Linked DNA regions of Homo sapiens: regions 2 and 3 are each reported to be linked to region 1. The links are microRNA targets in miRTarBase. Many come from high-throughput screens and were not tested one by one. Region 1 holds a microRNA gene; each other region holds the end of a gene's coding sequence.

Region 1 (3,151 bases):
TAAGAAAGAACCTCTCTGTACGAGGCCTACTCCCTTTCAGTTCCCTTTCTTCCCCATTGTGTCCCAGTGGAGGACCTGATAATACACCTGACCCATATCTAAGACATGCAGTTGGCAGGGCTGATAGTAGGTAAGGTTCACAGTATGTTAAAAAGTCACACGAGGCCGGGTGCAGTGGCTCAATGCCTGTAATCTCAGCACTTTGGGAGGCTGAGGGTAGGAGAATCACTTGAGGACAGGAGTTTGAAACCAGTTTGGGCAACATGGTGAAACACCATCTCTACCAAAAATACAAAATTACATGGGCATGGTGGTGCACACCTGTAATCCCAGCTACTCGGCAGGCTGAGGCATAAGGATCACTTGACCCCGGGAGGCAGAGGTTGCAGTGAACCAAGACTGAGCTACTGCACTCCAGCCTGACCGCAGACTGAGACTCTTTCTTTAAAAAAAAAAAAAAAAAAAAAAGTCACAAATGGTTTTTCTCTCCCTGGCCCCTCTTCTCTCTGTGGTAGGTAGGTTCAAATTACAGCCTAACCTCAGCCATCTCTGTTCTCTTTGCTCAAGCATATGGGTCACTGCTTTGGGTTCCTACACCAGTCAGACATCCACAGGCTCCCAGATACAGACATGAGCCTAGGATGAGGTAATATACCCGATTAGGCTCTGAGCCTAAAACACGTTCCATGAAATTACCTGAGCCTTCCTTGCACAGTACTGTGATCTAAGATCTAACACATAATCAAGTCATGCACTTTGTTTCTTATTTGCTATTGTTACATGTGTACAGTGTCCTTAGGAGTCTACAGGGAAGAGGGATAATTGGCAGAGATTGGCATTGGCAGAATCCTGGGTTCTCCAATAACCACCTTTCACCCCCAGCAGTACTCTCTAGAGTAAGATGGAGGTTGAAGATGTGTGCTGTTAAATTTCCTAATCCTGGCTGGGTATAGTGGCTCATGCCTGTAATCCCAGCACTTTGGGAGGCTGAGGTGGGAGAATCAATTAAGCTCAGGAGGTCAAGACCAGCCTTGGCAACATAGTGAACTCCTGTCTCTACTAAAAATTTGCAGGTGGGTGGCCTGAGCCTGTAGTCTCAGACTCGGGAGGTTGAGGTGGGAGGATTGCTTGAGCCTGGGAGATCAAGGTTGAAGTAAGCTATGATCATGCCACTGCACTCCCGTGTGGGCAACAAAAAAAAAATTTCCTAGTCTTTCATGCACGTGATGCTGGCTTGGTGTTTACAGCTTCGTATTCCTGAAATCGATATGTGCCAGATATCACTGCAGACTAGTCCTTATTTGATAGAAATAAAATAATTTACATTTTATTTTCATGTAAATGTGACAGCAGCAGCAATAACATAGGCATTCAGTAAATATTCTTTTGAATTAGGCCAGATCCTAAATATCCTGAAAGAAACATGACATGTCACTATCTACTCCTTCAAGACAAAGATATACTTTTTTTCTTTCTTCACTTCAGTAAGCTGGTCTACAATGATGGACTTTTATTTATGCAACAATTTCAATACTGTTCAACATATTGGGCTTTTTTTTTCTCCCTGTAAGTAGAATCTGATTTTGAAATCTAGTAGTGTACTGACAAGTGCCAAGCTGTTCTAATTAGGTTACCTTTCACATTTATAAAAATGGTACGAAGTTCTCTGAATACCATTCCAGAAATACTAATTCATACTTACCTATTTTCAGTCTCCTAAAGGTTCCAAAGATCTTAATATATGTTCACTCAGCACAACATGGCTGCACCAACAACTACCCCATGTTACAAAACAAGGCAAAGAGAAGCAGAATAACTCTCCCTATGCCCCGGGAGAAGTATGACAGAGGTGCAGGGTAAGAGGGTTTCTGGGTCCCAGCCACCTGTTTCACATTCCTCTTTCACCTTCTTTCTTCCTGGGTACGGTGAGGCTCCTCTGATGGAAGGTAAGATGGCTGCCATCCTTCAGTTATCACAGTACTGTACCTTTAGAATAGACAGCATCAGCACTGTGATAACTGAGCCAGGGCAGCCTGTCAGTCACTGTGTCGGTCAACGGCATCCTTTCTGGTGGCTGCATTACTCTCTCTGAAGGCTCCCCATGAAGTGAAGGACTAAAAGATCACCTTCTGGTTGGAGACGTGAGGAGGCAGAAGAAAAAGAAGGATCAGAGCCCAGCAAGTGGTGAGGCTGAAATATTAAAAGGCCCAGTTGAATTAAATTAGAATGAAAGATGAACACATGACTTATCCATATTAATGAGGATGAACAACTGCATGATTAGGTTTTCACTCTAATACATCAAATATGCAGTAAGCTTCCAGCATATTTCACAGCTTATCTCTTCCATGCATGGATTCACTGACTGTGCCTCCCTGACCTCAATCATTGATTTTTCATATATATACCGAGGAACTACTACGTTCTAAAGCCCTCTTCTAGATGTTCAGGAAATAAAGATAACTAAGACATGATTCCTGTCTTCAAAGTGCTCATAACCAAACATGACAATAATACTTCATATCTGCCAAACATTCAAAACTGCTCTATATGTTTTCTCATTTGGTTTTCACAAGACGCTATGGGGCTGGCAATGAATTATTCATTAATTCATCAAAAAAGGATTCTGGAAATAGATTAGATATTATTACCCCATTTTATAGGCAGAAAAAAAAAAAAAAAACTTAGGTGATTTGCCAGAGATCATATATTGCTAAGTTATGGCGAACCCATGTCCAGAACCATGTCAAATGAGTGAACACAGTGCTTTGTTTTCTCTACCCTACCCTAGCTGTCCAACTCCATCAACTGGATATTCAGTTTACACAAACAAAAGGATTTCTAAAAACATTTACTTTTTGTTTTAGTTTTCTCAGTAACTGAGATCATGAAGCAGAAGCTAGTGGGGCTTTATAATTAAGAAGAAAAATGCACATTAGCAAAAATGACTTTCATTCCTCTTGCTCTGAGTGCTAAGAATGTACTCAAATTAGTAACATTGATATTTTTCACTATAGTTTATGTCAATTCTATACCTATGGTGATACTGACAACCTTCAGAATACCTTTTTAAAAAGTAATAATAACATATACACATCACTTGCTTTTAAATTATCTGTACCTTTGAGACGTACTCTGAAGTCATTTTAGG
Region 2 (3,000 bases), not on the chromosome of region 1:
GTCCGCAGAAGGATGCAGGCTCAGAGGGGTGATGTGACTTACTCAAGGTCACACAGCAATCAAAGGGCCCTGCCCACAGCCCCTGAGCTGCCTCCAGGCTGTGTGGCTCCAGGAGAGTGCCTTTCCTGTCTGGCGCCTGCCACGGGTAGAGAAGGCTGTGTCCACAAGCATCATCCAGCCCTGCCTGTCAGCTCTCTAATCAGCATGGTTACATGACAAGGACACCAAAGAGTGAGAGGGGCATCTTGATTGGCAGATGGAGACAGGGAACGCCCCAAGGGTTAACTCTAGATGTCCTGGGCATGTCATCAGTGAGAATGACAAGTGGAGGTCCCTTTTACTGGAGAGCAGGGAGGCTTCACCTGAAATAGCCTTCGTAGACTTGAACAACGACATTACCCCCCTCGCTGCCAACGTAAGCACCTGGGAACTACTGCCCTGAGTGACCCAACCCTCCTCCCCGACTCCCTCCACCATCCCTAATCCCTGGCAAATGCTCATTTGGAATCATGTTTCATGCACACGTTGGTGTCCGGTTGCACCTGCTCCTCCTTGCACTCAGGATGTGGCCCACATCTGGTCACCCTGACCGCTAATTCTTGCCTTCCCAGCCTGCCGTGCAGCTGGGGCTGGCCTGGTCCTGTGACGCAAACCTGGTTCTTAGGATGTAGCCGGAATTTGCTGAAAGGTTCTAAGGAAGTTTTGGCTTTCTTGATGAGAGAGGCCCAGCCCGAAATGATTCCCTCTCCCTGAGTACAGGGCGCTCAGCTGAAGCCACAGCAGCCCTGGCGAGACGAGGCCCCAGCAGGACAGGGACACCAAGGGAATCACACAGGGCACAGCCCAGGCATCGCTGGGTCACTGGGTCCCTCTGGATTTGTGGCTGGACAAAAAGAAATCCTATTTGCTCCGGTCAGTGGTCCTCCGTTAAGGGTGATCTTGCCTCCTAAGAACATGCAACAACTTCTGGAGGTATTTTGGTTGTCACAACTTGAGGGTTTCTACAGGCATCTAATGGTGGGGGGTGGGGGGGGCACTGTTAAATGCAGGAACGTCTTTCCCCAGGGAAGAGTGCTGAGGGCGAGAGGCCCTCACTTAGGCCGCTGTTCCTTGGTGTTTGTTTCCTGCAGCCAAAAACACTCCTGGCAGAGAGGCCGCCCTAACCACTGAGACTGCTAGAGAGAAGGTGGACTGAGGAAGCCAAGCCCCTAGGCATGAGGAAAGGGCAGGACAGCAGGGCCCAAACCAGCCTCCACCACTAGAGCTGGCTGGCCCAAACCCGCTAACTTCCCACCCGAGCTTTTGGTGTCCAGGGCAGACACACCGAGGGTTTCCTCCCGTGGACGGTGCTGCCCCCCACCAGCCCCTTCCCCACCCTCCCTAACATTCTAGGCGGATAATAGAATGCACCTTTTGATACAAACAAACTCCATTTTAATATACAAAACAAACCTCACTTACATACATAAATATAATTTGGGGGCATAAATAATGTAAGAAAATAAGAGATGTACATATCAAAATAAATTACTCATAAATATCATGTTGGAAAACCAAGTGCTGGGGAAAGGGTTCTAGGTCTTCCCCCGCTGCTTCCACACAGCAAGTTATTGACAAGACTTGGGGTCTTCAAATCTTTTCTTTTCCTGATTTTTGAACAAGAAGTGCAGGTTGACATAAGGTGGGGGGCCTGGGAGGCCCCAATCCATGGGGAGGCATGTGAGGTGGGCAGAGGGCTGGTGGGCTGGGAGATGGAAGCAGGTGACACCGGGACAGCAAGTTATTCTCAGGACAGCATCCATGACAGAACTGGCCTCAGGGGGAATTCTCAAGTTGTCCCAGGGCTGGAGTGGGGCTCCAGGCTTCCCCTACTCCTGAAGCCTGGTGGGCCATGCCTGCTCCAGTCAGTTCTGGCCTGGAGGGATTTGGGAAGGGCAAATGGTCCCTGGAAGTAGAGATATAGATCAATTCCCACATGGGGTTGAGTGAAATTTACCTGCTGTTTTACAGAGTGGATCACCTGTTCCTGAAATTAAAACTACTGCCTGTCTTCTGGCTGCTCCTGGGGAAGTGATGAGAAAAAATTAGAGAATTTCAGCTTGACATAAGAATTTTTCCAAAGGAAGTGAGTTCCCCATCGATGGAGGTATTCAAGCAGAACTGAGACAGTGCAGCAGCTTGTCCAGCAACCTCGAGGGAGCAGAATGGGGGCCCAGGCAGCAGCTGGGCAAGCTACAGGCTTACAATGTTATGATCAGACAAGTCTATTGGCTAGAAACTGGCACTGCCAATGGAAAACTCTGAATATGTACAACTTCTAGATGTTTCTTCCTAAAGCTAAACAGAACGTGGACTCAGGACTGTTCTTGTAGAAGCACGTCCCCCACGCTGCAGGTACCACAGCCCCTGGCAGCAGTGAAGAGGCCCGGGCATGGTCTCAGTTACTTCTCAAAGCTGGGACTCCTCACGGCCTCCAGTCCGGTGACAAGCCCAAATGGGTCCATGCTGTCGGTCTCCAGGGGCGAAGAGAACATGTCAGATTCCAAGTGGCCCCTGAGGTCCTCAGGCTCCTCTGGGACCATGGGCAGCATGGGCAGGAAATGAGAGAGTGGAAGAAAGCCTCTGTTCTTGTACAGCTGCCGCTGTTTGGCACTGCTCAGGGAGACCGGGAGGCGGTGCTTCTCGGATCGGTACACATTGTAGCCATCTGGGCGGATCTCCTCCTCGAAAGCACAGTCTTCCTCCGAGTACTGAAGCTGCAGAGAAAACAGGCAGCTCTGAGCAATCCACAGTGGACAGGGAACACGGGTCCACATGGACGTTTGTGCTACAGACTGTCCCTGGTGGCCACCAGCAGTGACCTTCCACATAAGCATCACTTGCATGTTTTATACATACTTCCTGATGTACACACTGTACGTGTAAGTATATATAAAATATACCTTTATATATGTAAGTATATATAATATATAATGTACTTTAAGGCCAGGCACAGTAGGT
Region 3 (3,000 bases), not on the chromosome of region 1:
AGGTGCTTAGCTCTCAGTACTTAAATAAAACAGCAAAGAAGTTTGTACTTTGTTACAATTCAGAATGACCTTCCCCTCCAAATTCCTACTGAACTAGTCAAACCTCCAGTACTGTAAACTACTTACATTTCGAAAAGCTCTACTGAATGTTGAAATCCAAGTAGAAAAAGTTATAAAAAGTTACTCCCTGTTTTATTGCTGTTCACTGGATTTGGCTGACATTTGCTTTTTACTTTCATCAAATCTTACCGAATGATGAAGACACATCAAGTTACAAAGGTACCACTTTCTCTCTAATATCTTTTCTTTTTAAACAATTTGTGTCAATGTCAACAACATGATAAAGATGAAGGGTGTTCAACTGATTATTTGAACCCATAAAAACTCCACCAGGGAATCTTATTTTGTGGGCACAATGCACAGAGCCTGGAACATGGTGGGTGCTCAATGTTGGAGGAATCAAATTCCAACTTTAAAATGAGTACAAGGACCTACTTTAGATCAAATATTAAATCTGGCTAATAATTTCGGGCCACACTCCGCTTCTGTGTCTCAAAGCAGGTGGGGCAGAAAAAAGTAGCCGAGTCTCAAATTTGCTGCTATTCTCTTTATAAGCAGTTTACAACTACTTGGCATCTCTAGCTCAGAAGCACAAAATGTATATACAAAGAAATGATTAGAATTTATCTTAACTGAAAGCACTAGTTTAAACAGCCTAGAGTCTTGTAGAAATTGTTATTCCAAAACATGCAGAGGCAGCAAGAGTTGCCCAAAACCACATTTTATTCTATAACCTTTATATTGCTTTTCTGTTAAAGATTGAAGCAATGTGAAGTGGATGGAAATATTTTGTTAAAAGAACAAAATGAATTAATCACAGCATAGATGACTAATAAAAACCTTGGGTTTATGCCATACACTTCAAACACAAGGCAAAGTCCAGTAGTGGCTCATGTTCTGGGTTTTTAGAAAGCAAATGAAAATATTTGGAAAGATCAATATATTTCAACAGAAGAGCCATAAATGCCCTGAAAGCAGAAAGTTGACACAATTTTAAATAGAATTCATATATATATATTTTAAAATCAAACACAATTAAATATAATATGGTTTAAGTACATGAATACTTCAGCTTTAAAAGAATAACAGAGGTGGTACATAGTACCAAAAACTTACACAAAGCCTTTTTGCTTCTTCTGTCGATGAAACAGTGTGCCTCTATACAATCAAATATTGCAATGGAATAAATTCTCTGTTCATTCAAGACTTTCTCAAGGACAAAAGTGATTAATAATTATATATTTATACATATATATATATATTTTTTTTTTTGCAAAGTCTGAGCAAAAGCAGTAACATCTAAGAGAACTTTCTTTCCTCTCAATCATGTGCATTGAGGAAGCGCTGGCGCCACGTGGTCAATGGAGTGTGCTCACCAACTGGGCAGTCCTGCTGATGGCTGTGTGATCCCGATGCAGAAGCCAACTGAGCAGAAGTGCAGTGAGTGAGTCTCTTACTATCCTAAAGAAAGGAGAAGAAAGACGACCAACTGCACACTTTCCAGCTCACAGCAAAGAATGGGGGAGGCAGTCAAAGTCAAATGTTTCTCTCTCCCCAGTCATCCTGCTCACCTTATTTAAAAAAAAAAAAAGTATAATTTGGGAAGAACTGCTTTGTTCAAGGTGCCACAGGGGCAAAAGTGGAGTCATCGCTATTTCTTTCTTTCTTTCCACATGTATTCTGAAGGGAAAGTTAAGTAACTGGAGTGCAGAATTCCAAAGGGGCAAATCCTAATGCTCAAAGTAAACCAGATTCACACCCTTCTGTTAGCAGGGGAGAGAATGGTTTTAAGTATAGTGCATCTCAGGAGGAGGAATTAAAATGTGAAAACTATATACTGCCATCAGAGGAAGGAGGAAGTCACTGAAACTTGACCCATGACTTGTCAGTTTCCTTCCAAATTAATGCCGCTGTCAAGAAGACTGCATAATTAACTCTCACCCTGTTCCGCTGAAGCTGCTAGCACCACGCTGCCACTCAAAGCTGCCTGGCTCTCGGTGGGGCTGACTCACCTGCTTTGGAAGGACAAAGCAAACCACCTCTGGCACCTGCTTTACAATGCTGATTAGGGATGAGTTACCACTACGAGTGTGCATCAAGTATCAGTTCTATGCTTATCTGCTTCCCAGAGGATGTGGTCCCTGTCTATTCCAGTAGGCTAAAACACTCTCATAAATGGGTTATTGCCATTGGAAAACTAATAATTTTCTAGTAATGTAAACAATACCATTTTGTATCTTTAAGACTCTCACTGTGTGAACATCATGTGCATCAATTATGCCTACAGGTAACTGCATTATGGTGGAAGTCTAGGATTGTCTCCCATTCTCTCCTGGAAACAACAGTGACAGATCAGAAATATAGTGCTGTTTTCATTGGCTGTGTTGAAGAATCCAACCAAGGGAAAAAAGTTCTCTTATTTTTCACAAGCAGATTTCCTTTATCTCAAGTTTTGAGTCATAACTGAAAAAAGAAAAGAAAAGAAAATGGTAAGGTGCATTTCTCTAACAAGTGACCTATTATTACAAATTAAGGATGGACACCAACACTTAGTGTTTACTATATACCAGAGTTTAAGACAGCCAGAAGCTGACTACAATTTTGTGAGGTAAAATATTGTAATTTTCCTTGTTAAAATATGAGTGAACAGAAGCTTAAAGAGGTTACGTAACTTACCCAAGGGGCATATAACAAGGACTGGCATCCAGACTTGCTTTCCCATGTTGGCAATAGATATTAGAATGAAAAATATTGCCAATTTTCAATAGAGTAATTCTACTTCTAGGAATTAACCCTAGAGCATATTCAAGAGGGATGGTAAAGACACACATGCAGACATTCACTGACTCCCTCCTGTAGTCACAGCACTGCGGACAAATATCACGGAAGACAAGGTCCCCGGTATTGTGGCATGGGACATGTGCACATGAAGCAATTCAG

What was found. The annotated mature microRNA hsa-miR-3671 reads AUCAAAUAAGGACUAGUCUGCA and lies in region 1 at 1,285-1,306, opposite strand. An mRNA with a match to its seed (bases 2 to 7 or 8) in the 3' UTR can be bound and repressed. Matches are read on the target gene's strand: a 7mer-m8 pairs with bases 2 to 8, a 7mer-A1 pairs with bases 2 to 7 and ends in A, and an 8mer does both.
Region 2: miRTarBase lists FGF19 as a target of hsa-miR-3671. Seed matches in the 3' UTR shown: 7mer-A1 at 1,629-1,635.
Region 3: miRTarBase lists AKAP10 as a target of hsa-miR-3671. Seed matches in the 3' UTR shown: 7mer-m8 at 1,227-1,233.

The regions. Positions count from the first base shown.
Region 1 is chr1:65,056,478-65,059,628 of GRCh38, forward strand. MIR3671 (microRNA 3671) reads right to left here and starts at 1,365; the gene lies at 1,278-1,365. MIR101-1 (microRNA 101-1) reads right to left here and starts at 2,031; the gene lies at 1,957-2,031. It also overlaps a transcript of JAK1 not described here.
Region 2 is chr11:69,696,821-69,699,820 of GRCh38, forward strand. It overlaps FGF19 (fibroblast growth factor 19), which reads right to left. Exons shown (of 3, transcript NM_005117.3): 3 at 1,418-2,756. The coding sequence ends at 2,442. Among named protein-coding and RNA genes, the nearest start is that of FGF19, 5.7 kb to the right of the region's middle. RefSeq lists a silencer at 2,461-2,755.
Region 3 is chr17:19,903,710-19,906,709 of GRCh38, forward strand. AKAP10 (A-kinase anchoring protein 10) reads right to left here. Exons shown (of 15, transcript NM_007202.4): 15 at 593-2,523. The coding sequence ends at 2,518. Among named protein-coding and RNA genes, the nearest start is that of ULK2, 37 kb to the left of the region's middle.